Homo sapiens: one gene and its partners. The protein of the gene in region 3 purifies or fractionates together with the protein of the main gene of each other region. This does not show direct contact. Each region holds a gene or a part of one and is shown on either strand. Other genes may lie near its edges.

Region 1 (7,442 bases), on a different chromosome or scaffold from region 3:
TAAATAAAAGATCCATACCTAGCCACATTGCAGTGAAACTTCATGATACCACAGATAAAGAGATTTTTTTTTTTTTTTAGATGGAGTTTTGCTCTTGTTGCCCAGGCTAGAGTGCAATGGTACGATCTCTGCTCACTGCAACCTCTGCCTCCTGGATTCAAGTGATTCTCCTGCCTTAGCCTCCGAGTAGCTGGTATTACAAGCATGCACCACCATGCCTGGCTAATTTTTTTTGTATTTTTAGTAGAGTCGGGGTTTCTCCAGGTTGGTCAGGCTGGTCTCAAACTCCTGACCTCAGGTGATCCTCCCGCTTCAGCCTCCCAAAATGCTGGGATTACAGGTGTGAGCCACCATGCCCGGCCAAACAGATGATTTTAAATGAAGCCAGAGAAGTTAAATCATATGCAAAGGAATAATTAGACTGACAGCAGACTTTTCAATAGCAACAATGAAAGTCAGGAGACAATGGAATAAAATATTAGAAGTGTGAAACAGTTCTCTCCCTGGCTAAAGTATCATTCAGGAGTGAGAAAAATGTAAGACATTTTATATAACTGAAAGTATCCACTTCTAAAATATCCTTGCTGAAATAAATTTTAAAAGTTCTGCTTCAGGAAGAACATTGAACCCAGAAGGAAGAAGAAAGAGGCAAGAAAAAAGAGTGAACAAAGATAGTGGTAAGCACATTGGTAAATCTAAACAGCATAGATTGTATAAAACAAAAACAATGACTTCAAATATCAGGAGAGAGTCTTAAAAACAAGATGTAACTAAAAAGAACAATAATTACACACAAGACAGAAGGGGAAGAGTGTGATTAAACTCATATTCAAAAAGCTTTCTATCATTTGCGAGAAGATCAGAAGTAGTAATATTAGATTCTATTAAACCAAATATGTGTGTAAAATTACAGAGTAACCCCCAAATGAATAAAAAAGGAAAGCATAACTTTCAAATCAGTAGATTCATGATTATGATAGAGATTGTCAGACTGGATTCAGCAGCAACAACAAAATCTAGCTACATGCTCTTATATGACACACATCTGAAACATAAATATACACAAAGTTTGAAAGTAAAAGGACAGGAAAAGATATATCAAAGAAATACTTGCCAAAATAAAGTTAGTGTAGCTGCAGCAATATCAAACAAAATGGATTATAGACAAAGACTATTATTAGGGATAGTGTTACTTTCTAATAATAGAATGAACAATTCTCCAGGAAAATACTACAATTCTAAATTTGTAAGCACACAGCCTCCAAACACATGAAGCGAAAATTCTCACAAATTCAGGGAGAAATTGACAAATGCACAAACTTGATATGAGATTTTAACACCTCTTTAGTAACTGATAGTTCCAAATGCAAAAAGATGATAAACTATAGAAGGCATAAACCACATGATTGATAAGCTTGATTTTACAGCTCTAACTAGATCCTACACCAATATTAGAATATATGTACTCTTTTAGGCAAACATGGAACATTTTCAAACATCTATTGCACACTTGGCCACAAAGCAGTCTCAGAAAATTCTAAAAAATCAACATCACTTACTACATTCTCTGACTATAAGGCAAAACTCAAAAACAAAATAACTCATAAAAAGATTCGTATTTGGAAATTAAAAAGTACTTTTAAATAATCTCATGGATGGAAAAAGAAATAATAATGAAAATCAGAAAATATTTTAAAGTTGCAGCCATTTTCACATGGAGGACTGGCCAGCACAATTTGCCTTTAGATTCATTTGGGAAAAGTGCCGACTAGTTCACCAAAAGTCAATTCACAGAATGACCAGATAGCCAAAAGCCAAATATGGTAAAAGCTAAACCACTGAATATCAACTTGCTAAACAACCAATCTGAATTATTGAAATTTTTTTTTTTTTTTTTTGAGACAGGGTCTTGCTCTGTCACCCAGGCTGGAGTGCTGTGGTGTGATCTTGGCTCACTGCAACCCCCCTCTGCCTCCTGGGCTCAAGAGATTCTCCCACCTCAGCCTTCCAAGCAGCTGGGACTACAGGGGTACACCACTGCACCTGGCTAATTTTTGCATTTTTTGTAGAGATGGGGTTTCATCATGTTGCCTAGGCTGGTTTGGAACTCCCAGGCCCAAGCAATTCACCAGCCTTGGCCTCCCAAAGTGCTGGGATTACAGGTGTGAGCCACCGTGCCTGGCCCCAGCCAAGGAATTTTTAAAGATGTGTTTCAGCTCCACTCCTGCCTTTGTCTGTGTCCAGAGCCATCCAATAAACCTGGTTCAGGACAGGTCTTCACAACTATTTTTTAACGCACACACACGGGCTGAGGTAAATACAGGTCTACAGGGTCAAAGGCGCAACTAAAATTTGGGGGATAGGGGTGCCAGGAAGTGTCTCCATAATTTAAATAATTGGCCATGCAGCAAATTTCATGTTGGTGAACTGCTTTTAGCGACTGATGGTCCACAAATGGGGCAGGAAGCCTAGCCAGGAAGTGGACGTTTGAGTCAAAGAGGTGCCAAGAATCTGCACAGCTTAAAACAAAGGTGCATCTTACTTGGATAGAGATTTCTTTCTACAGGTGTTTAAGTTTAAGGCAGGGGTCCCCAGTCCCTGGGCTATGGACCAGTACCAGTCCTGGCCTGTTAGGAGCTGGGCAGTGCAGCAGGAGGTGAGCTGCGGGCAAGCCAGGGAAAGCTTTATCTGTAGTTACAGCCACTCCCCCTTGCTCGCATTACCCCTGAGCTCTGCCTCCTGTCAGATCTGCAGGTGCTGGATTCTCATAGGAGCCAGAACCCTGTTGTGAATGCGGGATCCAGGTTGCGGGCTCCTTAGGAGAATCTAATGCCTGGTGATCTGAGTTGGAACAGTTTCATCCCAAAACAACCCCCCTCCCAGTCCATGCAAAAATTCCCTTCCACAAAACCGGGCTCTGGCCCAAAAGGTTGGGGACCCCTGATTTAGGGGGTTTTAACGTTTAGGGATCCCGGGCCGGAGGGTGGGCGGTGGAGAGGAGCTGGGAGCAGGAACACATTACTGTAAGGAGCCCGCCTCACCTCGGCACGGAGGTGGGACCCGGCCTAAAGCCCAGGAGGCGACTTACCCTGAGGGCTGTGGCCTGTAGGGCTCTTGAAAAGTTGGACTTTTAAGTTTTCCCTTTCCGCGAGGTGGGGCCTTGTGATATCTTCAAATCCTTGTTCAGCAGGCTGCGCACACGCCGGTCCTGTGTCTAAGGTGTCTCGGGTATGACCGAGGGGGCTTTGCCCGAGTGGGCGTGCGCCTTTCCTCGGAGGCCGGGACGAGGGGTTGTCGGCATCGTACCCGAGTCCGTGATCATGGCCGGCGCGGCTGCAAGGGCCAGCCCCGGGCGACTGGGCGAGGAATTCCCTTTCCTTCCCTCCGATATTGCCCAGGCAGAGCGCTGTCTGGGCCGCAAGGTCTGGACGGGGCTTCCAAACTCAGAGCAGAGTCTCCTCTGCGTGGGACCACAGCCTCCCCTTCCCCTCCAAGCTTCTGTCTGGCACAGCAGGCTTAGCCCCGCAGGCCCCCTTCCAGCAGCCTTCTATAAAAATGACGGGGTCCTTCTCCAGACAGGAAAACCAGGCTCGCTGCGCCTCGCCCGCACCCCCGGAGCGCTCTCGCAGCGCCCGCCCAGACCAGGCCTTCGAACTCGTGAAGCGCAGGGGGAGGCAGAGGAGAGTGGGCCGCGCTTCCTTCCCGCATCACACGTTTATTTGAGGCCTACTATGTGCCAGGAACAACTGGGGTTACCACCCCAGCAAACAGGCACGCAAAATGTGACACGAAGGTAGGTCATGGCTGCGGCGAGCGGGGGCGCGGGCGAAAGACGTGAGGATGTACGGGGGCCTGGCAGCTGCTCTGTCCCACCCACGCCCGGCCGGACCCTCGACCCCTTTCACTCCAGGTCGGGTTTCCCCGACCGCGGCCTCTGGGAAAGATGGGTCCCTCTTCATCCCCACCATCAGCCCCTGGCACATGGGACGCGCTGAGTGGTGGCTGCGGGAATGAATGAGTGATAAGCGGCGCGTACCCGCGGGCTTGCACGCCCACAGCCGCCCCGGCTGGTCTCGGCGCGCAACCTCTACCCGCAGCTGGGGGCGGGGACGAGGGGAGGGGGCGGGGACGAGGCCCGAGCCAGGTCCGCCCCGCCCTGTCTCCGCCCCCCGCTTCCGAGCCGGCGCCGCGGCGCCTTCTGGGAAGTGTAGTCCGCGTCTGCGCCGGCCGGCCGGGCCGCCGAAGCCGGGGGCTCCGGGCGGAAACGGCACCACCCACCAAGGGATGCGAGGCGCTCGGGGCGGGCTCAACGAGGCCGGGGGCGGGCCCGGGCGCGCCCACCCCCGCCCCTCCCCCTCGGCCCAGGCCCCCGGCCCCGCCTTCTCCTGCGCGGACCTGGGCCGCCGCCGACGAGGGTCGCGTGCGCCCGCGCCAGGGCCCGCGCCGGAAACCGAGGAGTGGCGGGGAGGCTGAGCCCGGGGATGGCGCGCCAGGTAAGGCAGGCGGACGCGCGGACCCCTCGGCGCAGTGCGGCCCCGAAGGCGGTAGGGCGAGAAAGAGCTGGGACCCCCCCGCAACTTCGGGATCGGCTGGGTGAGGCTGGGCAGGCCTGATGCTCAGGGGTTCGTGCCGGGAAGTTCAGGTCCTCGGACAACCTCTCTCCAGCTCTCCGCCGCCGGTACCCACGGCCCAGTCTCCACCTGGGGAAACCCCCTTGGCGTGGCTTGTTTCGTTACAAGTTATCCTGGTAGAGTGGGCATGAAGGCCTCGGAGGCAGTGAGTAAATCTCATACTTCTGTTCTTGGTGGAATCCTGGATCCCGGGGGCTGGGGACGTGGAAATGGGGAGAAACAAAGATAGAACAAACCCCAAGTTTTGTCTTGGGAAGCCTGCAGGTAAGGCGTTTAGATCTGAGAACTGGAGGGAGAGCCCCAGGCCGTGACAGCCTGGGCACCGTTTGGGCTAGGTTGTGTGTGGGCTGTGACGATGCTGGGAAACTCTGGTGCTGATATCAGTGAGGTATCAGGTATCTGGTGCTGATACCAGCAACTGCTCCACGTTCTTCTGGATGGGCACCTGGAGCCAGTTCTGCAACCGTGGTGGCTCCTGAGCTTTGGCCAGTCCGAGGCAGCCATGGATGGGGGGCAGCGTGTGACTAGGCAGAGCAAACACTGTGCCAGGCCCTTGGCGTCATTAGTGCCCCCAAGCATTTGGGGAGAAGGGAGAGGCTAGGCAAATTGGATGTTGTTGGGCAGGGACAGTCAAGTGTCCTTTTCAGGTCTGGCTGCACAGTTAAGTAGCCTAGGGACACCCTGGTTCAGACATGCCCATGGCCCCATCCTAAGGCCTCCTCATACCACAGTTTCCTGTTCTGTAAAGTGAGGAGTTTGGGCCATTGACCTTTCAGATCTGATGAGGGGAATATCCTCACACTACGTAGCTTCATGGAGAAGGTGGCCAGGAGTGACCTTGGGGAGTGGTAGGTCACTGTAAGGTGGAGAGGAGCAGGGAGGGTTCCCAGAAGCCCAGGGCAATGTGAGCACAGCCTCCAGGTTGAGAGGTCCTGTGGCAGGGTCTGATCAGGGAGCCCGAGCCTGAGGCCCACTGGGAGAGCAGGTCTAGGTTGGGAAGGACTGTGAGAGAGGGGCAGGTCCAGCAGGCACTGAAGCTGCAGTTTTTGTGCTGGGCTAGTGACACGGTGGAAGGGTGATGTTAGGAGGACCAGTGTGCAGCTATGAGCTAGGAGGCTGCCCAGTTACAAGAGTCCTGGGTCAGCCCAGAAAGCTTTTCTCCATTGGTTGGGGGAAGGAGGTGAAGTGGGGCCCGAGGAGGAAGGCCGGTGGTGTGTGGGCAGAGCCAGCCAGTGGTGGCCTTCCTCCTCCCGAAGATGAGTTTTGTAGCCCAGGTGTTTGCACACTCACACTTGCTCACTCCCTCACACACAAAACCCTCACTCTTTGCTTTTTCTGGGGAGAGGGAGGCCACTGGCAGAAGCGCCTACCCTGGCCACAGTCAGTTCCCATTCTCATTTTCTAAGAATTTTATCACAAAACAGTTTGTCTTGAGGCTGAGATGGTGAGAGGCCTGGAAAGCATCTCTTACAGATTCCTGGAAGAGCTGGGATATATTTAGTCTGGAGCGAGAGAGACACCGGTGGTCAGGAGCAGTATGTGGAAGAGCTCAGCTGGCAGGCTCAGACCTGCAAGCGGGCATTAGGCAGACAGGTCTGGCTGCAGTATTACTAATCATAGCACTTAATATTCATAGTCCCCGCATTTGTTCTAGGCACTATTCCTGTATTTGTTTTGTCTTCACAATACCTCTATGAGGTAGGTTGTTATGATCCCAGTATTACAGATGAGTTCACTGAGGCCCAAATAGGTTAGGTTTGGCTGAGGTCTCATAACTAGTATGAAACAAGGCAGGGATTGGAATTCTGGCAGCCTGGCTCCTGAGGCTAGGCCCCAGTCACCGTGCTCTGCCCCGGTCTCTGGGTCCGGAACCTCTTAATGGCCACATCAGGTCAGCAGTGGTACCAGTGCAACCAACATAGCTGGTATCATGTTCTTACCTAGAGCTCAGACCTGCCTTGCCAGCTCTGTGTTGAGCCATCAGAATGTCATGTGGGAACCCTCTGCCTGCCATGAACCAAAATTCCAGACTCCCAGAAGGAAAGCAGGGGTGTGGCACACACCACGTCATTTGCTCAGCCTAGGCACCTTGAGCCACTCCCATCATTTAGGGAATGGTGGGAAGCCTCCTGACACCTAAATACCTGGAAGCCAGCCTGAGCCCTCCTGGCAAGCAGGCCTTCCTAAGGACAGCGGTCTAGGGCTGCTCTGCACGCTCTTCTGCATAGACCCTGATGTTGGCTACATTTTCTCTGTTCCAAGATGCTAGGAAGAAATGTAAATAACTCTTTGAGAGAAGTTTTGGAGGGTGTCTGAGACTGTTCCTGAGAGGGAGTGACCATACCTGGGCCAGAGCCACAGAGGTTTGCTCAGGGAGAGTCTGCACATCGAGGCAGGAGGCAAAGGCTGCAGCATCTCACTGCCCATCAGCCTCTGGGCCTCCGGGCCTCAGGCAGGCAGTCACGGGAGGGGCTGCCCCTTGCCAGGGGTGTAGATGCAGCCTGGCCAGAGGGGAGCACTGGTAAGTGTGACTGCATGGGACAAGTTATCAGCTGTTCAGGGAGAACAGGCAGAGAGCCCGGCAGTAAGTGGACAACAAGGCTGCCGGTTAGTGGCAGGGACAGTTTTTTGTTTTTCTTGAAACAGGGGCTGGAGTACAATGTTGTGACCTTGGCACACTGCAAATTCTGCCTTCCAGGTTCTCCTGCCTCAGCCTCCCAAGTAGCTGTGATTACAGACACCCACCACCATGCCTGGCTAATTTTTGTATTTTATTAGAGATGGGGTTTCACCATGTTGGCCAGGCTGGTC
Region 2 (7,132 bases), on a different chromosome or scaffold from region 3:
CAAAGCCGACTGGTGTGATCAGATTTGCTATGGAAAGGGGATTCTTCCACACAAAAAACCTGGACACAGATGTTTATAGCAGCTTTATTCATAATTGCCAAAACTTCGAAATAACCAAGTTTTCCTTCAGTAAGTGAAAGAGTAAATAAGCTATTCCATACAATGGAATATTATTCAGTGCTAAAAGGAAATGAACTTTGAAAAAATATGGAGGAAACTTAAATGCATATTACGAAGTAAAAGAGGCCAATCTGGAAAGTCTACATACTGCCTGACATTCTGGAAAAGGCAAAACTATGGCGAGGGCAAAAAGATGAGTGGTTTCCTGGGGTTGGGGGCTGGGAGAAGGAAGAAGGGAAGAATTGGTGAAAGAGGATTTTTAAGGCAGTGAGACTGCTCTGTATGATACTGTAACGGTAGATACATTTGCCCAAACCCGTAGAAAGGATAACACCAAGAGTGAACCCTAAACTATGGACTTTGGGTGACGATGATGTGTGAGTGTAGGCTCATCACTCGTAACAAATGCACCACTCTGGTAGAAGATGTTGATAATGACAGGAGGCTATTTATATGTAGAGGCTGGGGGTGGGGGTTATATGGGAAATCTCTGTACTACAGCTCAATTTTGCTATGAATTTAAATTGCTCTAAACAAAGTCTGCTAACAAAAAGAATGTCTTAATATTTCAATATTTGAAATCACACAGTATGTTGCATTTGCTACCCCTACTATGCATGTATATATGTTTATATGTGTGCATATATCTGTGTACATATACACATGTGTATATAAATATGTTTGTGTATATGTGTATTATGGGTGGAATATGTTAGCACAGTATGTGATGTATATGTCACATATGATTTTACATATGGATGTATGTGTATATTTGTATATATGTGTGTGTGTGTATGTGTTGAGCATTCAGTATATACTAGGCTCAGTACATGAGACTTTACTCTTGTCAACTTCCTAAGACTCCCACGAGGTTATCTTCCCCATTGGACCTTTAAGGAAGAGGAGAAGGTGAGTATCAAGGCTGAGGTCCACGCACATTGAGTCCCACTGCTTGGATACATCTGTATCTAGAATTCCTGATGACCCCCTTATGACTGCCTGATGCACCTGTATCTTTATCTTCAAATCCTGGAGGAACCCTCCTTTCCACTGTTGCTTCTCAGCAGTATGTAAAAGGACCGTAGAGCCCAGTGCTCCTGCCAGAGAAGATATGACCAGGTCTTGGAGCCTCACTCGTGGGAAGCTGGTTTAGTAGGTACCTTCAGTGTCCTGGTGGGAAAGGCTTGAATCCAAGTGAAGCAGTGACAGGGACATCAGACTTGATAGACTTTTGTGAGGAGAAAACAGCTTCCTAGGCTTTCTTTGGGATTGATGACCACCCTAGCCTGGCCGCTATAATTTTTGTGTTTTTCTAGATGCTGATTGGTTTTCCTGTGCATAATTCTCCAAAATAGAATTTGGACCTCTAGGGATATTCTTACCACTCTTCTCAACTCTGGAATTTTGGAGAAATAATAGGTTTCAATCTTTGGGTAAATCAAGAAAAGCCAGTAAGAAATGTCACTGCCCACCCTGATGTTTAGTTCATGTTGCTCAGACCAAGTTATTCCTGGATTGCAAAAGCTGGCCCAGGAGGCGTCATCTCATGGCTTTCTTGAAACAGCTCTTCTGCATTCGGTGGCACCAGTCCCTCAGTGGAAATCTATAAACAAGTCTGTGTTTAGAATCAGATTGGAAGGATTGCTTGTCCTTTCTTGTGAAGAATAAATGAATGAATTAGAGCATCCCCTGTACCTTCTAAGGTAGCAAACACATCTAAATACGGTGTAAGATTTAACCAATGGCGGACACGTCTAAATGGAGCTTAGGGGCTGAGTTAACAAAGAACAGAAAGCCAACTTGTTTTGTAGTAAAGAGCTAAAATAGGAAAGACTAATAGGTTATGTTGATTTCTATTTAAACAAGCCATTTTACTAATTTCTGATTGGGTGTGAAAGCCTCAAGCTGTTTTGAAAAGAAATAGCTATTTGCTGGTGGTGATTTCTTACTCTTCCCATGTGTAAATTTAGAAAACTTTGGATTTTTATTTTGCTTTCCCAAAGTAGCATCTAAGTAACAAATAAAAAGCCTCATTTTTTTTTTAGTTCAAAATGAAAAAAGAGTCAGAAGGAGAAAGTGAGAAAATCCACCCCCACCACCATATTTCAACTTCTTTCATTTTCTACTGAGAGAAAATTCATTATCTGATCTCTGATTTCATTTATTTCAGTGTCTGCGCTGTGCACTTAGTGGAGCTGGCTTTTACCAAGATTATATTCTGACAGGGTGATGGGGGCCGGGCTGTGCGTGAGCATTTGCTTTGCAAGGAGAAAATGTGTTTCCCCCTCCCTTTCATTTCACTCCTAAAGCCAGTGGTGGAAGAGGAATTTGCTGTTCTCAGTTGATCTCTCTCTATCAGGGCCTCCCCTTCCTATGGCCGCACCCTCTGTGAATGAGGAAAAGCGGGGAGCACAACTGTTTAACCTGTCAGAGCCAGTTCCCTGATTATCCATGCCAAATGTTTTCCGTTAGAGAAGGAACTTGGTGGTCCAGGAGGTTATGCAGACTGGCCATTCTAGAAGTGGCTGTCTCAGGGTGTGGCTGTGGCTATGGGGCAGCAGGTGTGAGGGGATTTTGAGGAATCTCTCTCCAGAAGCAGATCAGGATATCGTGGTAGCAAGGTGTGTTTTAGAATTTATTTTTATTAACCAAAAGCCTACATTCTACCTTAGCTCATTATAACCGACGCAAGGGCTTGATTGAAAATGCATTCTTCCCCAACTTTCTAACCCGGGAGCACTTAGTTGCTACTGCTCACTGAACGTGGCTCATCGGGATGCCTCATGGAAAAGGGCTTGAGCAGAAAGCTGATTCCAGGTGCTGCTGCACAAAGGGGAGGAGTTGCCTTCCAAGCACTCACACCTGGATCCATAAAAGTCATTTTACTTACCACTGCGAGGCCCTGGGAAGTTAAACAGACATGTGCCTGGATCTTTAGAGTGACCGATTTCCCATTTCTAAGCAGACTTTTGCAATGGGTCTTCTTCCTTACGGACAGCTCTGCCATGTGCATGATCAGGCTTCCAGACCAGACAAATTTGGGATTGTATTCTTTCATTCTGTTCTGTTCTGTTCTTTTCTTTCCCTTTCTTTTTTCTTTTCTTTTCTTTCTTATTTTTATGCAACACCATGCTAGTAAGAGGTAAGTTTTAAATGGTAACATTAATATTTGGGTCAAGTGGAAAATACAATTGTAGCAACCACTTTAAGCCCAGTTGCCTGTTATTTAGAATTTCTTCTCATGGAAGAAGCCATAGGTTGACCTTTATTTTACTATTTTGGAGTGCAATGAAGTTTCTCAGAGATCAATTTATTTTCCCAAACAATTGCATAGCGATGCTCTGCCTGCATTATATCATGCTGATTTTAAAATAATAGTACTAATATGTATTTGCCTGCAGTTTTTTCCACAAGGCTCCTTTGAATTCACTTAAAATCTTACTTATTTTCTTTCAGAGACAGCCTCTGCCTGTGGAGATATTTGTCTCATGCATACCCCTTGTATCTGGTTTTCTTTGTACCCAGGACTTCCGCCTTATCTAGTAGCCCTACGTATCCGGACCTGCCCTTCATTAGGATCTCCCCACACCGGAACCCCACTGCTGCTTCCGAGTCTCCCTTCAGCCCTCCACATCCCTACATTAATCCCTACATGGACTATATCCGCTCCTTGCACAGCAGCCCATCGCTCTCCATGATCTCAGCAACCCGTGGGCTGAGCCCTACAGATGGTAAGTCCAGGATGGATTCTGCTTCTGGAGATCATGCAGCCTCCTCCCCGCTCCTCACTCGGGACGTGTATAAAGTAGACCTGATGTTTAGTGAGTGTTTCCCATGTGCCAGGCGCTGTGCTCTGTGCCTTACATGCATGATTGCGTTTCAGTTTTGTAACACCTCATTGGCAGTGGTGTTATTATCTCCATTTTCATGTCAGAATAGCAGCGTGCAGTGGGGTTTACTTGCAACGCAGTCAATCCCATGGCTAGTAAGGGGCAGAGGTGGAATTCATTGAAAATGTTTCTGATTCCCAAATCCCTGCTGGTAACTAGGGTTCTGTTCTGCTGCTTCACATATGATTAGACTGGTCCTGTAGCCATTCACACACGTGCATGTGTAACATGAGTGTTTTACTCACCTTCTGATGAACACTTTTCTGTTCTGTGTGTCTGAGCACATTTATACAGATGCGTCTGTTAGAGGAGGGCTTCCCAAACTCTAGTGTGTCTATGAATCACCTGGGGAGCCTGATAAAACGTGATTCTGCATCAGGTGGGATCAGGTGGGGCCTGAGATTCTGTGCTCCTCAAAAGCCGATGATGTCAGTGCTGTTGGTGCCTGGACCACACTCTGAGTGGCAAGGTCTTAGAAAACATCATGGTCCAGGGCTGTTGCCTGTGCTTTCTATTCTTGACCATGCCACATGAAAATCCGAAGAAGTATGTACTGGGAAAGGAAATGAGCTTAGACTTTCTTATACTTGTTGCTCATTTTAGGCTCTTAAGGATCGAATTCCTGTTGGTTCTGTTAGTCCCCCCATTACTTTCCACATGACTCTTCTTAATTGGAGCTGTGTATTCTCCTGGTGTCAACTTATAAACTGGTCCTTTGATTCAGGAAAAGTATTTTCCATATCACGCACACATAGGAATTCACTTGCCCAATAATCACTGGAATCTGAATCAAGGTCCAGAATTGCATCACCTATTAATTACAGGTAGCAGGCTCTGAATTCTTTGCAAGAGATCGCAAATCACCACTGCCTGTTCCACATCAGAGAAACACCAGGCATTTCATTTCACTGAGCAGTGCTTGATGCGACTTCCATGCCCTATCCACATTCTCTAGGTAGACGCCTTCCTGAGGCTGGGTGTGCATGGTGAGAAGCTGCATGAAGTGTCTCAGGAAACATCCACTCACTTGGGTTTTCAGAAATAGCTTTCCTTCAGTAACAGCCACTTTTTTCTTTTTTGATTCAGTGCATTGAATTTACTGGTTAATAATAGTAATACAGGTAGCTAAAGAATAAGTTTTGCCCTTTGGGCAGGATTAACATTTTATTTTATTTTGAGAAAGGGTCTCACTTTGTTCCCCAGGCTGGAGTGCCTTGGTGCAATCTCAGCTCACTGTACCCCAGACCTGCTGGGTTCAAGTCATCTTCCTGTCTCAGCCCCCTAAGTAGCTGGGACCACTGGTGTGCACCACCACGCCTAGCTAATTTTTATATTTTTTGTAGAGACAGCGTTTCGCCATGTTGCCCATGCTGGTCTCAAACTCCTGAGCTCAAGCGATCTACCCACCTCTACCTCCCAAAGTGCTGGGATTACAGGCATGAGCCACTGTGCCTGGCCAAGATTCACATTTTAAAAATAAAAATCAAATATGAATTAGATTTTCTGCTTCAGATTTTATTTTGCACTTGAAGAACTGGAGAATCATCTCCTTCAAGTCCTTGGGAGTTGGTGGAAATGACTAACAAGGAGAATAGACTGAGGGAGAGAGGGAGGCTAGCTGACAATGGACTTGGAATTATGCCTGGCCTGCAGAAATTTATTCGGGCTAGTGGAAAGTCATACCACGAGTTAAACTACTGAAAGCACTCTTATCATCTGCTTTGTGTAGCATTTGATGACGAGTATATATATCACATTCTTTGACTGGTTCATTTGCCTTCCTTTTCTTGCCTCTCAAGAATCCAGTTAATATAATCAAATAAAGTAACATGATAAATATTTCCCTTGTGGCCTAAAGTTTTTTTCCTTAAATCTCTATCTTTACCATGTATCATGGATAAAAAGTATATGAAACAAATATAAAATACCCACAAACCTATCACTAGAGTGCTGGTATTTCTAGATAATAATCGTAAAACTTTTATTGATTGAATGCTATGTGCTAAGTGTGCTACATACATAATTTAATTTTTGCTCCTGACGACCTCATGGAGCCAGTTTAAATCCAGATCTCTATGAGTCTGGAGGCCACCCTCAGAACTGCTACAATGTCTTGCTGCTTTTGCACGAAAATTGGCAGGTGGAAACCGACTATTATCCTGTTAGAAAGCTGAGTCTTGGCAGTAAATTGCTCCAGATTGATAGGTATATTTTCTTTTTGATTTTGTAATGAAGAAAAGGAAAAGAGAGCTTTTAAATTATGGAATGTAAAATTGTAGCTTATCATTCAGTTGTGTTATTAAAGCTGTGCTGCCTTTTTTCATACTGGTAAACCCTGACTTTTCATGTGAGTGAGAGTTAACTCAGACACTCTTGTCAGAAAGCTTAGAAAAGTATTTTAAGTATGTCTGGAAAGATATCATAGTCTTCTAAGTTGTCTACTATTGTAAGAAATGCAAACATACAGTGATTTGATATAAAAATGATTTTATTTGGGGGGCAAATGTGGTTATGTACATATATACATTTTAATCATTCTGATTTGTTGATAATTTCTTAGACCAACAACAAAAACTTAGTAATGCATTTCACTTTTTTCTATTCCTTTCCTTCAGTTTTATTTTCAAATAAAAGATGTTTCATGGAAGTAAGAGCACAATTTGAGTTAAAGGAGCTTTACTCTAATAAGCCATAAAAGGAATTGCTGATGTGGGTTGTGTAATGGACTCTGAGATGCCTCAAGAGAAACTTCTAGTTGACCTTCTTTCGCTAGTAACCATACATCTCTTGTCTCCTCCTAGCGCCCCATGCAGGAGTCAGCCCAGCAGAATACTATCATCAGATGGCCCTGCTAACTGGCCAGCGCAGCCCCTATGCAGACATTATTCCCTCAGCTGCCACCGCCGGCACGGGGGCCATCCACATGGAATATCTTCATGCTATGGATAGTAAGTGACGGGGCTGGTTTCTAGAGTCTTGGGAAATGGCAAAGGCAACTTTATGAAACAGAGAAGAAGATACAAAGATTAGGTGATTGTGTAACTTTTTGATCTGGAGGAGAAAGTGGAACCACCACTATCTGGTGCTCTGGTTCCCTTCGTTTTCTAGAAGCTTCCACAGAT
Region 3 (7,026 bases):
TCACTTGAGGTCAGGAGTTCAAGACCAGCCTGGCCAACATGGCGAAACCCAGTCTGTACTAAAAATACAAAAGTTAGCCAGACGTGGTGGCAGGCGTCTGTAATCCCAGCTACTCGGGAGGCTGAGGCACAAGAATCGCTTGAGCCTGGGAGGCAGAGGTTGCAGTGAGCTGAGATTGTGTTTCAGCCTGGGTGACCGAGTGAGACTCTGTCTCAAAAAAACAAACAAACAAACAAGAAACTAGCTTCTTCATGGCATTTTCCTTAGTCAAGCCTGGCCTGGCCCTAACAACACCCGTATTCTTCCTTAAAACCCACCCCTCTGACCACTCTCAGCTAACCTAAGGCCCCTACCTCTTAAAACCCTGCTGCTAGCCCTGTGCTACTATCTCCCGGCTCTAGGAGTCTCTCACTCTAGCATTAAAGAGCTAGGCCTCTCTGGGGATCTGTTTCCCACATGAAGAGTACTGGGGCCATTGCCACAAATAGCTAGATGTCCCAGAATTTATTCTTATTTTTAATTACCAAAGTAATACTGTGCCAGCCTGGCCAACATATCGAAACCCCGTCTTTACTAAAAATACAAAAATTAGCTGGGCGTGGTGGTGGGCACCTGTAATCCCAGCTACTCGCAAGGTTGAGGCAGGAGAATCGCTTGAACCTGGGAGGTGGAGGTTGCAGTGAGCCAAGATTGTGCCACTGCACTTCAGCCTGGGCAACACAGAGAGACTCCATTTTGTTTTGTTTTGTTTTTTTTAAAGTAATATTGTGGAGAAAAGTCAAGTGATCTAGAAAAGTGAGGTTTAAAAAAGTGAAATTTGCTACTTGGGAGGCTCAGGTGGGAGGATTGCTGGAGCCCAGAAAGTCAAGGCTGCAGTAATTTGTGATCGTGCCACTGCACACCAGCCTGGGTGACAGAGAGAGACTCTGTTTCAAAAAAATAATAAAGCTATATAGTATTCCATAGCAGGGTTAAACCCAATTTATTCAGTCTTCCTCTACTGATGAATACTTAGCTTTTTTCCAATTTTGCAACAAGCTTTGTGACAAACTATACTGTAACCCACAACCTCGAACATTTATTTTTCTGCCTGTTTTTTTGTTTTGTTTTGTTTTGAGACTGGGTCTTGTTTTGTCACCCAGGCTGGAGTGCAGTGACACAATCATGGCTCACTGCAGCCTCGACCTCCCATGCTCAAGGGATCCTCCCACCTCAGCCTCCCAAGTAATGGGACTACAGGCATGCGCCACCATGTTTTTTTCATGTTTTGTAGAGACAAGGTCTCATTATGTTGCCCAGGCTGATACCAAACTTCTGGCCTCAAGCAGTCCTCCCGCCTTGGCTTCCCAAATTGCTGAGATTACAAACATGAGCCACCATGCCCGACCAGTGTTTATCTCAAAAGAATTCATTCCTAGAATTGGTATGCAATGTCAGAAGAAATGCAATGCCTCAAAATTTAAGTCATTGTCTGGCTGGGCGGGTGGCTCATGCCTGCAATCCCAGTACTTGGGGAGGCTGAGGTGGGTGAATCACTTGAGCTCAGGAGTTTGAGACTAGCTTGGGCAACATGGTGAAACCTCGTCTCTACAAAAAATACAAAAATTAGCTGGGCATGGTGGCTGGCACCTGTAGTCCCAGCTACTTGAGGGGCTGAGGTGGGAGGATCGCTTGAGCCCAGAAGATGGAGGTTGCAGTGAGTTGAGATCATGCCACTGCACTCTAGCATGGGCAACAGAATGAGACCCTGTCTTAAAAAAAGAAAAAATTTAAGCCATTGTCTATGCCTAACCCTAAGAGTAAGATTTTTTTTTTTTTTTTTTTGAGATGGAGTCTTGCTCTGTTGCCCAGGCTGGAGTGCAGTGGCACAATCTCGGCTCACTGCAACCTCCACCTCCAGGGTTCAAGCAACTCTCCCTGCCACAGCTTCCCAAGGAGCTGGGATTACAGCTCCCAAGCACAGGGACTACACCACAACGCCTGGCTAATTTTTGTATTTTCAGTAGAGACGGGATTTCACCATGTTGGCCAGGCTGGTCTGGAACTCCTGACCTCAGGTGATCTGGCCCTGCTGTGATGTAAAGAGGTAACCTTCAGGAGGCCCTCAAGCCTCCTCTTGGACTCCTCATCCTGGGGCTAGAGGCCAGAGGAAGCAGGGAAGCGGGAGGAGAATGACCAAAGAGGCCCCGGGTTCCCTAGCGCAGCTCACCCCTCTTCCCTGAGTGTGCCAGAATGCTGGAGGGCAGGCTGGAGAGCAAGCTCTTCAGGTTATCTGAGCATCAAAGTGCAACTCCTCTGAACAGCTCTAGACACTGAAAAAGTGACTGTGCAGATTCCTTCAAAGAGCATTTTCCAGGTTTCTCCCACCCCTGCAGCCATGAAGCTTGGATTCTGGAGTGTTTAGGCAACAAAAGCCCTGGGTGGGCAGGTGATGGTCCTGCTTCTGTCTAGGTTCCTGGCTTCTCCCTGCCTAATTCCAAACCCCATGCGTTGCTACCATGACTGCTGCACCCACAGTCCTCTGCTCTGGAGCCTGCAGTGGCTCTGATCATTTTGTGGCCAACCCAAGGGTCCTCTGCCCACCTCAAGGCACATTGCAACTCTTTTCTCTCTCTATTTATTTATTTATTTATTTATTTATTTATTTATTTATTTATTTATTTTGAGACAGAGTCTTGCTCTGTCTCCAGGCTGGAGTGCAGCAACCTCCGCTTCCCAGGTTGAAGCGATTCTCCTGCCTCAGCCTCCAGATTAGCTGGGACTGCAGAAGCGCACCACCATGCCCAGCTAATTTTTGTATTTTGTTTTTGTTTTTTTTTAGATGGAGTCTCGCTCTGTCGCCCAGGTTGGAGTGCAGTGGCGCGATCTCGGCTCACTGCAAGCTCCGCCTCCCGGGCTCACGCCATTCTCCTGCCTGCGCCTCCCGAGGAGCTGGGACTACAGGCGCCTGCCACCACGCCCAGCTAATTTTTTGTATTTTTTTAGTAGAGACGGGGTTTCACTGTGTTAGCCAGAGTAGTCTCAATCTCCTGACCTCGTGATCCGCCCGCCTCCGACTCCCAAAGTGCTGGGATTACAGGCATGAGCCACCGCGCCCGGCCAATTTTTGTATTTTTAGTAGACGGGGTTTCGCCATGTTGGCCAGGATGGTCTCGATCTCTTGATCTTGTGATCCGCCCGCCTCAGCCTCCCAAAGTGCTGGGATTACAGGCGTAAACCACCGCGCCCGGCCGCAACTCCCTTCTCTCTCCTCTACGAACTGTGATGAACAAAGCCTTTCATCTCCTGCAGGAACCTCGGCTCCTACCCTCGTTCTCCCTCTGCCCTCCACCCTCCATCTACCCTCATAGCCCTCAGACTGTCTTCACATCCCAAGGATCCCCTCCTCTACCCTGCCTCATATTCTCCTCTGGGAGCCCCTTCTTGGCTCTCCATCTGAGAGGGCCCAAGCCTGTTTCTCAGTACTTTCCTCCCCCAGAATTATCTCCACTGCATCTATTTGGCTTTTGTGTCTGCATTTACACCTATGCCTGCATCCTGGGGGCATGTGCCATCTCCCTCTTTGGGCAGAGAGAGTTGCTGTGTCTTCCTTGCCCTTGCTAACCACTCCCCCCTCTTCCACTATCCCCCTGGCCTCCAGCTGCTAGTGCACAGGGCAAGTCTCTGCATTTATGGTGCCACTGAGGACAACGAGAGAGTGATGGATGACAAGGGGTGCTCCCTTAGAGAAAAACCAGCCCTGGTTCTCCATCTTATTTCTGAAAAAGAGTTTGTTGGATGCTTTTCAATTAAAAGCAGATGATTAATTCAGCCCTGGCCTTGTTCTGTCTTTGAATAACAGATACATTAGTTTACTTGAAAAGAAATATTTTCATTTGTATTTCCATGTCACTTGTGATTTTCCCTGCCTTGCACCCTCAGCCCTGCCAGTTGGCAAGAAGACAGTCAGCTTTGCTGCTAAGAGGAGTATAAAGAGGGCTTGGTCCAAGCAAGAAGGCAGTGGTCTACTCCATCGGCAACATGCTGGTCCTTTATGGTAAGTGGATATGGTCCAGTCGCAACCCTGGTCCTTTATGGTAAGTGGATCATGTGGCCTGAGGTCTATAGGGAGGGGGACTTGGGCAGGAAGGTCAGCAAATTTTCCCTAAGTCCAGGCCAGCACCCTGTCCCAGGGCAGGTGGGACGCTCTGCCTGCAGAGCGTCCTTTACTCTCCTGGAGGCCAAGATAGAAAAGGTCAGGGCCACTGGCTATTCAGGCCCCTCTGGGTGGCAGGTCCCTGGGCCACAAAGCAGAGAGAAGCCCCATCTGGTAGTGGGGTGGGTCCCTGGGCTTCCCCACCACCCCCATTGACAGGAGGACTTCCTCAGCAGGTGCCTGGCTGGGGTGTGCACTGCAGGCCCTGAACCCTGGAGAATCTTGCCAAAGCATTAGGGGGCTGGTGGGGGTCAAAGAGTGGGGGGGGGTCTCTTCAGGCCAAAGGGTGATCTTGAGCAAAGAGGAGACCACAAGGAGCCTCTGGGGCCTAGCCTGGTGGTTTGAGAGAGGTCCTTCATAGCATGCCGGAGTTCTGGGAACACCTGGGGGAAACAGAAGGCACCCAGGCACCCCTGTTTTCAAAAGGGGCTCAGAGAACTCACAGCTGGGCCCCTCATTCGTTAGAGAGGAACTGTGAATTTGCAGACAAGGCTAACATTCCTCAAAGCACAATCGCCACCCCCCACCCCTACCCCTGGCTGACCCCATGCTTAGTCATCACTCACTTTTCTTCTGCCCCACAAAGGACACAGCACCCAGGACCTTCCGGAAACCAATGCCCGCGTAGTCGGAGGGACTGAGGCCGGGAGGAATTCCTGGCCCTCTCAGGTGGGTGTTCCTTCCCAGCCCCAGACTTCCACCCAAATAAGAGCTCAGTGCATGACATAAGGTATCATGTGTATTTGTGCATGTCCCTATCAACAAGCAGCTCTCCAATTGTCTAGGTTCTCGATTTTAAAGATGGATGGGATCAGGCTTAGGTGGTTTTCTAAATGCAAAAGGCTTGGAGGAGGGGATTTATACACCAACCACAGTCCCTCTTCAAGGCACACACCCAAACACAAGATACATTTATATTCTCAGCGACAGCACTTGTGCCACGCAAGAAAGACTGGGTGCCAGACAGTCACCTTGGACTCCACATACCTTGAAACTCACACGCACACCACTCCACACTGTGTGTGTCACAATGCTTGCACGCATGTGCGCGCACACACACACACACACACGTACAGCATGCTGCTTAGTTGGCTATTTAGAGTTTCCACTTTGCTAACAGGGCAGCTGGGCCCTGATTTAAGTGATCTAAATATGTAAACCTGGCAAATTAACTGATGAAGATCCACACTTTGAGAAGATATCACTGCAATCAGAGTTTTAGCTTATAAAAGTCTGAGCCCCAGTTTTCAGGAGTAGAGCTATTACATAACATGAGGTGCTAGAAGAAGAGACATGAACTGATAAAAACAAACATCCTATTGGTATTTTTTTTTTTTTGAGATGGAGTTTTGCTCTCATTGCCCAGGCTAGAGTGCAATGGCATGATCTCGGCTCACTGCAAACTCTGCCTCCTGGGTTCAAGCAGTTCTCCTGCGTCAGCCTCCTGAGTAGCTGGGATTACAGGCGCCTGTCACCATGCCCAGCTAATTTTTGTATTTTTAGTAGAGACGGGGTTTCACCATGTTGGCCAGGCTGGTCTCAAACTCCTGACCTCAGGTGATCCACCCGCCTCAGCCTCCCAAAGTGCTGGGATTACAGGCATGAGCCACAGCGCCTGGCCTCCCATTGGTATTTCTAAGTAGTCCCTGAAGTGGGGAGACAGGAGATGTCTTGAAAACACTAAAGGTACAGCTCTGGAGACCTAAGCCTGTTGGGCTTAGGTGATGGAGCAAATCTTTGCCTATAGTTCCTCTTTTTTGGGGGAGGAGAGGGGGCGATGGAGTCTCGCTCTGTCACCAGGCTGCAGTGCAGTGACGCTATCTCAGCTCACTGTAACCTCCACCTCCTGGGTTCAAGCAATTCTCCTGCCTCAGCCTCCTGAGTAGCTGGGACTACAGGTGCATGCCACCACGCCCGACTAATTTTTGCATTTTTAGTAGAGATGGGGTTTCACCATGTTGGCCAGGATGGTCTTGATCTCCTGACCTGGTGATCCACCCGCCTTGGCCTCCCAATGTGCTAGGATCACAGGCGTGAGCCATGGTGCCTGGCCTATAGTTCCTCTTTAAGGGAGAACAGAGGTAGAAGGAGTTCCAAAAAAGGAGTTACAATGGGTTCTAGGTCCATTGCAACAACCTAGAGAGATAATGCCAAATACACTGTGTGCCTTTACTCCTCCATCCATGTACACAGCAAACATCACCAAGCGATGGAGCATCCCTTCCTGCTGGCCCCAGAAGCATCTACACACCCCTTATCAATGCCACACTCCAGGTGGCCACTACCAAGCAATCAGTAGCAATTGGCAGGTCAGATGAAACCTATTTGCCATCTCTAGCCTAGAAAGAGAATGTTTTGAAGGACAGCAGGACTTTAAGGAGGTGACATGTAGTTTGAGGCAAAGTCTTTTATATTTAATTATTTTTGACGTTGTAGAGGCGAGGTCTCACTATGTTGCCCAGGCTGGTCTCCAGCTCCTAGGCTCAACTGATCCTCCTGCCTCAGCCTTCCAAAGTTCTGGGATTACTGGCATGAGCCACTGCAACCGACCTGGGGCAAAACCATTTGAGAAACACCAACCTATCCCTTCTTTCTTTCCTCCCCATCTAGATTTCCCTCCAGTACCGGTCTGGAGGTTCCCGGTATCACACCTGTGGAGGGACCCTTATCAGACAGAACTGGGTGATGACAGCTGCTCACTGCGTGGATTAGTAAGAAAAACAAAGACAAGCTTTCCTGGGCCCCTGGAAGGGGAAGGGGCTGACCTTCTGAAAGAGGATATAATTTTGCCCTCTCTGGACAGCACTTCAGGGACTGGGCAGTGGCTCCTT
Region 4 (7,923 bases), on a different chromosome or scaffold from region 3:
GAGGCAGGAGAATCACTTGAGGCCAGGAGTTTGAGACCAGCCTGGGCAACATAGTGAAATCCCTCCCCACACCAAAACATTTTTTTAAAATAAAATCAGCTGGGATGTTGGTACGCACCTGTAGTCCCAGCTACTCAGGATGCTGAGGTGAGAGGATCGCTTGAGCGTGGGAGTTTGAGACTGCAGTGAGCTATGATCACACCACTACACTCAAGCCCGGGTGACAGAGCAACACTATATTACATACACACACACGCACACAAACTGTAACTCCCTTCTCTGCTCTTAGTCCTTTTTTTTTTGTTTTGTTTGAGACTTGCTCTGTCGTCCCCAGCCTGGAGTGCAGTGGCACGATCTCGGCTCACTGCAAGCTCCGCCTCCCAGGTTCATGCCATTCTCCTGCCTCAGCCTCCCAAGTAGCTGGGACTACAGGTGCCCGCCACCAAGCCCGACTAATTATTGTATTTTTAGTAGAGACGGTGTTTCACCGTGTTAGCCAACATGGTCTCGATCTCCTGACCTCGTGATCCGCCTGCCTCGGCCTCCCAAAGTGCTGGGATTACAGGCGTGAGCCACCGCGCCCGGCCCTATTTTAGTACTTCTTAGTCCTTCTTAGTACTTAATTACATTTAACATACCATCGCATTTCTAACTTCAACTTATTATCCAACTCTCCCTGCTAGAATATTAACTCTATAAGGATAGGAGTTTTTTTCTGGTTTGTACTTTGTTGTATCCCCAGGGTAGTCCAGAACAGTCCTAATGCAAAGTAGATGCTCAATAAATACATGTCAAATGTATAAAATGAGGGCTTAAAAATCAATTTGATTTCTGTGTAACCTCCAGAACAAACTGGAGGGTAGCAAGGGCGGAGTGTAAAGGAGCCAAATGCAACAATCCATGCAAGAGGTAATAGGGCTTAGACCAGAGTGATGGCAGGAGGATGGCAGTTTTGGGGATGTATTCTAGAGGTAAAGCTAACGGGTTAGACAGATGAGGTAATCTGACAAATTAGATGTGGGAAGAAGGGAGATAATGGCTGTTTCTGATGTAAGCAACGGATGATGCTATTTACTCAGACAGAAAAGACTGGAGCAAATACATTGCGCACTGGAGAAGAAAAGGAGGTTGTGTAAACAAGCATTCTGTTCTTCCTTCCTCTGTAGTGACTGCCACCCACACTGGCACTGCTCAACTGGAAATCTTAACATAGTGACAAATCAATTTAACCATGACCAAAGTACTCACAGTACTTACATACATGTTAGAGAGCCACTCAAAAAAGCAGAACTTTGTTACTAAGTTTAAAAAAAGAGGCCGGGCATGATGGCAGGCGCCTATAATCCCAGCTACTTGGGAGGCTGAGGCGGGAGGATTGATTGAACCCCGGAGGCGGAGGTTACAGTGAGCTGAGATCATGCCATTGCACTCCAGCCTGGGGAACAGAGTGAGACTCTTTCTCAAATAATAATAATAATAAAAAGATTGATGAACTAAAAATAAAACAAATTCCCAAAAACCAGACTCTACCTAGAGGATCTCTTGGGGTGGTGGTTATGGTTAAAGGTCAACATTATTTCTAAAACTAAACTTAAACTCATGCTCCGTTCCTCTAGCAGTGAAACATAGAGGTTCAAATCATGGATTTGGGGAACCAGGCGGATCTGAGTTGAAGCACAGCTCCACCACTTAGCCGTGTCACCTCAGTCGAGTTACTTGAACCTCTCTGGGTTGGTTCCTCGGCTGTACAACAAGGAATAGTATTAACTGCCTCACTTCAAAGACTTGTGAGGGTTAAAATAATGTGCAAAGTGAAAGGCTAGGCATAATTCCTGACATAGAACTCGATAAGAGGTAGTGGCTATGGCAGTGACTGTGGTCCTGCACACTTCATTCCGAAGCAGCAGCTCCAATTCATTTAAGCTAACAGTTTACACTCTAGACGTAAAGCCTGGTAGGGTTCAAGCGTCCCTAACTCGCCACAAAAACGGACATTTCGGCTTTTTCCCCTAAGATCCAGGAAGGCAGCTCAGGTGTAAGGGGATGAAAAGTACGGAACCCCGAGGACACATCAACTCTACAAAAAGTACCAAGACACACGGTTTGGACGAAATGCCCCTCGCCTTGGCAAACTTTCCACACCTCACCCGGCATGAGAGAAACAGCCTATTCCTAAGGAACGGAGCGCGCACTCCCGACGAGACGCCCGTGCGCTCCCGAGTCCGTTATTGTGTCAACGCTCCCGGGTCTGACAGAAGCCTCCAGGCTCGGCATCCCCGAGGGAGTTGGCCGGAGGCTTCGCGCTTAGGACCCTGGTCTGGAGGCCCCGGGCGTTTCTGGAAACGGGAATTCCGGGGGAGGGGACTGGGGGATGGAGGGAGTCCTGGACGAGGGGTGGGATTACCCGGCTGCCGCTGTCGCCTGGATGGTCTCCGCGGCCGTCCCGGGCATAGTCGGCGCGGGACTCCCCCCGGCTGCTGCCTCTGAAGCCGGCCGGGCCCGGCGGGAAGAGTCGTCGGCCCCGCGGTGGCGACGGGGAGCCGCGACGGGCCCGAGGCGGGGACGGGGAGACGCGACGACCCCGTGGCGGGGACGGCGAGGCCCGGCGGCCGCGGTGCCCTGAGGGCGAGCGGGGTCGGCGAGCCGGGGTCCGCGACGAGGAGCCGGAGGGCGGAGGCGGCGGTGAGCTGCGGCGAGCCGGGCCTGAGGAGGAGCCAGAGCTGCGGCCGCTGCGCGGGCCGCCCCCGCCGTCGTCTTTAGGCCGGTGGGAAGAGACGGAGGAGCGAGCGCTGCTGCGGTACATGGTTCTTGCAGCGGCGGCCACGGCGACAGCTCTGACCCGGGGGCGCCCTAGACGCAGGCTCGGAGCGCGCCGCCGCAGCTGCAGCCGCCGCCACCTCGGCCGCTGCGCGCCGCCTCAGCCGCGGGAGCAGCCCCCTCCCCTCGGCCCCGCGTCGCCCCGGGGGCCCGGCCGAGCGCGCCCCCGCGGCTGGCGGTTGGAGGGCGCGAGCACGCGTCCGACACACCCCCCCCCGCCTCCGGGGTTCCCCGCTCCTCCACTCAGGGAGCGGCCGCAGGAACCAAGAAAAGTGGGGAGGAGCACAGACGCCGGCGCGAGGCTGGGCGAGGGGAGGGGAAGCGAAGCGCGCGCCCTGAGCTCTGCACGCCCCGCCTCCGAATCCTCAAGATGGCGGCCGCAGAGCCGCCCACTTCCCCCTCCCGCGGCCGCCACGTGACCCCTGTGGCCTCCGCGCGGGGTGGGCGGAGCGGAAGGAAGGGCTTCTCTGGAGAGGGATCTGGTTTTCCGGGGATGCTCCAGGCCTCTGGACTTAGGGGTTTGGAGACCGTGCGGAGGTGTCTTCGCTCTTTCGTGCCGCCCCTCAAGCCTCTTAATTTAGGGATGGACACGAAATGGTTGAAAACCATTCGTGATAATATAAACGGGCCTGTAAACGTTAGCTGTGTGGGAGGTTACGGACCCCGGCAGGAGCGCCCACCGAAATCCTGTCCCCAGCTGAAGCAACACGACCCGCATCAGTTTACTTTCCAGTTTGCCTAATTTCTAGAGGTTGAAATTGAGGATAGGAAAGTACGAGGTGGAGGTGGTGGGCCAGAATCAAACCCAAAATAGACGTTGTCAGGCCTCTGAGCCCAAGCTAAGCCATCATATCCCCTATGACCTGCACGTATACATCCAGATGGCCTGAGGCAACTGAAGAGCCACAAAAGAAGTGAAAATAGCCTTAACTGATGACATTCCACCATTGTGATTTGTTCCTGCCCCACCCTAACTGACAGGATATATTCTCCCCCTTGCCCTTAAGTAGGTGCTTTGTAATATTCTCCCCCGCCCTTAAGAATGTACTTTGTACACCTATCCCAAACCTATAAGAACTAATGATAATTCCACCACCCTCTGCTGACTCCTTTTTCGGACTCAACCCGCCTGCACCCAGGTAAGATAAACAGCCTTGTTGCTCACACGAAGCCTGTTTGGTGGACTCTCTTCACACGTTTTCGAGCTGTTTTCTGACTAAAGTACTTGTGGTCATGGTGGAGGTCCTTCATTACCAGGGGCCCACATCATGACCAACTGGAGGCGTGGCAAGTTTTTGTAAGAGATCCAGGCATGCCCCCTCCCCTGGCCTAAGTCCAGAATTTTCCTAGATGCCAATCTCAGGGCCCTGCATCCTAAATACAAAAGTGGGCCAGGCGCAAAGGGTCACGCCTATAATCCCACCATTTTGGGAGGCCGGGGCAGGAGGATTGCTTGAGCCTGAGAGTTCGAGACCAGCCTGGGCAACGTAGAAGGACCTCCATTTCTAAAAAAAAAAAAAAAAAATTTGCCGAGTGTGGTGGCACGTTCCTGTACCCCAGCTACTCGGGAGGTTGAGGCTGCGGTGAGCTGTGATCATGCCACTGCACTCCAGCCTGGGTGACAGAGTGAGACCCTCTCTCAAAAAATACATCCATATATATATATATCCATTTCCATACGTTCTTATAATGGCATATACTCAGTAAAAATGTATAAAATTTTTACTAGTTGACTACTTTTACCCAGCTTCACATTTTATATAATTTATATAAAATAAGAAACCAATAACATTTTAATGAAAAAAATAATAAAAATATGCCAGAGGTGTATGCCCTGTCTTTATTAGAGTATATATGGATTTTGGTTACCCATACTTTTGGTGGGACTTAATAAATGTGAAAAAAATGTAAATCAGTGTGTATAGATACTTGGAGTCAATAAATTTTAAATCATGTTTGTTATATTCTGTATCAACTTTTACTCCTCAACCCATTTCTAATACTGAATATTTTTATCAAAGGAGCTGGGGTGTTTCAAGACAGGGGGAGACACGGTGTATAATCAGAAAACTCTTCTGCTTCCCCTTCACACTTGCTCTATGCATAGTTCTGTATCCTGCATGAAATCTCTTGCAGATCCTTTCACTTTTCAAGTATTTTTCAGTCATGACAGTAGTCATATTGCAGTAGAAAATATATAGTACAGAACAAAACTTTAAACTTTATTCAGGCTAAAGGTTCTCCCCTACCCCTGCTTTTACCTGCTTCAGACTTGAAGCTTGCTATATTAAAAGTGGTATGGTAGGTTTCTCCACATCCCTGCCTTTGCTCCTCAAAGTTTGCTCCTCCTCTCCCACTGGCTAGCTGCTATTTCTGACCCCCTCCTCCCAGGAGGAGAAGGGATTGAAGGGAAAGAACACAGACTTTCCTGGTTAGTGCAGGATGCTGTTACCTTCCAAAATCGGTTCCCTATGGACAAGGAGGAATCACAAATGTTGGCTTTTCTCTCTTATGCACCTTTGTGGGCTTTTTTAGAACTCTCTTGCTGGCAGTGGTCCTCCTCTGGTTCACTGTCTATGACTCCCCTCCCCCAAGTCTTTGGCCTTCTGGAGGAGGTTTACCCCATGTAAAACTCACTCCCGTGGCAGGAGTCCCTTTCCTCTCTGGTTATCTCTCATGGGACGGATCCCTTTTATTTTGTTTTGTTTTTTTTTTTTTTTTTTTTTTTTTTTTTGAGACAGAGTCTCGCTCAGTCGCCCAGGCTGGAGTGCAGTGGCTCGATCTCCGCTCACTGCAAGCTTCGCTTCCTGGGCTCACGCCATTCTCCTGCCTCAGCCTCCCGAGTAGCTGGGACTATAGGCACCCGCCACCATGCCCAGCTAATTTTTTTGTATTTTTTTTAGTGGAGACGAGGTTTCACCGTGTAAGCCAGGATGGTCGCGATCTGCTGACCTCGTGATCCGCCCGCCTCGGCCTCCCAAAGTGCTGGGAAGGTGGCATGAGCCACCGCACGCGGCCTGGGAAGGATCTCTTTTAAATGACTCCAAGTTCGTTAGCTTGTGTGTCCACTTGGCTCACAGGATAACTCATGCATCTTTGCCCCAGTGGCGAAGGCAGTGCAGCTCACTCCCCATGGCTCCCACCTTATTCACCATCCCAGCACAGTTAGCCAGCATCTTGCTTTTGGACTTCCCCCAGGTAGGGGTTAAGACACTATCCCTGTGGATCTCCAAACTCCAGGAGACACAAGCCAAACATTCTAAGAGGTTCTAGTAGAAGGCTTTATCTCACTTGGCTCCCCTCTCCCGCCCCAGAGTGGCAGGAGAGGAAATACAGAGCCCACAGGTAACTGTCCGACACAATCTTCATTCTCTTATATAGACTGAGGGTGGATGATTAGTAATGCTGGCAGACTAGTTCATATTCTATCATCACCCTTTAAGATGGGGGAATGGGAGTACCTGGCATCTGTTGTATTGCCTTCTATTTTTGAGGCCTTTGCTGAAACTCCAGAGACAATAGGAAGAACCCAGTTAACGTACCGTCCCTGTTGTCTGTCATCAATTCAAGAAATTTTTATGAGACTTCTGATGAAGATGGTGAAATGTGTAAAGGCTTTCACACATACACACATACCACCCCATAGTAGACATACCGCAATGACATATAAAACCTTAAAAGAGAAAAGTAAGGAGACTAGGATGTATGCTATGGACTGAATTGTGTTTCCCCCACCACTACTCCAAATTCATTTGTTAAAGCCCTAACCCCCAATGTGATGCTATTTGGAGAAGAGTCCTTTGGGAGGTAATTAGGGTCAGATGAGGTCATGAGGGTAGGGCCCCCATGATGATAGTGTCTTTATAAAGAGAGGAAGAGACACCCATGCCCTCTCTCTGCTATGCAAGCACACAGTGAGAAGGCAGTGTCTACAAACCAGGAAGAGAGCACTCACCAGGAACTAAATTGGCTAGCACCTTGGTCTTGGACATTCCAGCCTCTAGAACTGTAAGAAATAAGCACGTGTTGTTGAAGCCACCCAGCCTTACGGTATTTTGTTACAGCAGCTCAAAACAGCTAATACACTCTGAAACGAGATAACCACCTCCCCATGGACCTCATGGGCTTTGAAATGAGTCTAGAATCAAGGGTAGCAGTTAGAGATTTGGCTCCTGTGAGATAATGGAAATGTAAGTGCTCCTCAGGAGGTGGAGGACCTGGGACAGATTTTTAGCTTAAAGCCAAGGACATGCCTGTCCCTACATGCGAGCTGAACAAATTACTGCCAGCCTTCTGCTTGGGGCTAAGTTTCATGGGAATGTGCCATGTGGGTGGGAAGATAAAAATATTGACAGCCTTTAAACAAGAACTGAGCCTAGACACTCCCTGCTCAGTGACTGGAATGGTAATATCCTAATATTACCAATATTACCTATACACCAGTAATAACTAATTAGAAAATACGATTCTGAGGCCAGCTGTGGTGGCTCATGCCTGTTAATGCCAGCACTCTGGGAGGCTGAGGCAGGCAGATCACCTGAGGTCGGGAGTTCGAGACCAGCCTGGTCAACATGGCGAAACCCCATCTCTACTAAAAATAAAAAAATTAGCCAGGCATGGTGGCGGGTGCCTGTAATCCCAGCTACTCAGGAGGCTAAGGCAGGAGAATAGCTTGAACCCGGGAGGCAGAGTTTTCAGTGAGCCGAGATCACACCACTACACTCCAGCCTGGGTGACAAAGGAGACTCTATCTCAAAAAAAAAAGGAAAGAAAGAAAATATGAGTCTGGCCAGGCGCAGTGGTTCACACCTGTAATCCCAACACTGTGGGAGGCCGAGGCAGGCGGATCACTTGAGGTCAGGAGTTCAAGACTAGCCTGGCCAACATAGTGAAACTCTGTCTCTACTAAAAATACAAAAATTAGCTGGGCATGGTAGTCTGGCTACCTTAGCACGCTTGTAGTCCCAGCTACTCAGGAGGCTGAGGCAGGAGAATCGCTTGAATCTGGGAGGCGGAGGTTGCAGTGAGTCGAGATCTTGCCACTGCATTCCAGCCTGGGTGACACAGTGAGACTCCACCTCAAAAAAAGAAAAGAAAATATGATTT

The links.
Region 1: the proteins of CELA1 (region 3) and KRABD3 purify together in Homo sapiens (affinity purification with mass spectrometry; 2 studies listed by BioGRID and IntAct, with this or other methods). This does not show direct contact.
Region 2: the proteins of CELA1 (region 3) and GLI3 purify together in Homo sapiens (affinity purification with mass spectrometry; 2 studies listed by BioGRID and IntAct, with this or other methods). This does not show direct contact.
Region 4: the proteins of CELA1 (region 3) and ZNF318 purify together in Homo sapiens (affinity purification with mass spectrometry; 2 studies listed by BioGRID and IntAct, with this or other methods). This does not show direct contact.

The regions. Positions count from the first base shown.
Region 1 is NC_000007.14:149,710,574-149,718,015, forward strand, and holds the start of KRABD3 (protein KRBA1), read left to right. Parts: upstream 1-4,377; 5' UTR 4,378-4,481; coding exon 4,482-4,493; exon of another isoform or gene 4,494-4,665; coding exon of another isoform or gene 4,666-4,776; intron 4,777-7,442.
Region 2 is NC_000007.14:42,045,210-42,052,341, reverse strand, and holds part of GLI3 (transcriptional activator GLI3), read left to right. Parts: intron 1-3,645; coding exon 3,646-3,851; intron 3,852-6,811; coding exon 6,812-6,958; intron 6,959-7,132. UniProt on the Homo sapiens protein: Has a dual function as a transcriptional activator and a repressor of the sonic hedgehog (Shh) pathway, and plays a role in limb development.
Region 3 is NC_000012.12:51,343,633-51,350,658, reverse strand, and holds the start of CELA1 (chymotrypsin-like elastase family member 1), read left to right. Parts: upstream 1-3,979; 5' UTR 3,980-4,020; coding exon 4,021-4,036; intron 4,037-4,781; coding exon 4,782-4,864; intron 4,865-6,805; coding exon 6,806-6,906; intron 6,907-7,026. UniProt on the Homo sapiens protein: Serine proteases that hydrolyze many proteins in addition to elastin.
Region 4 is NC_000006.12:43,366,563-43,374,485, forward strand, and holds the start of ZNF318 (zinc finger protein 318), read right to left. Parts: upstream 2,861-7,923; 5' UTR 2,826-2,860; coding exon of another isoform or gene 2,804-2,825; coding exon 2,405-2,803; intron 1-2,404. Other genes in the region: atherin-like, read left to right, coding at 2,802-2,825, 2,861-3,559.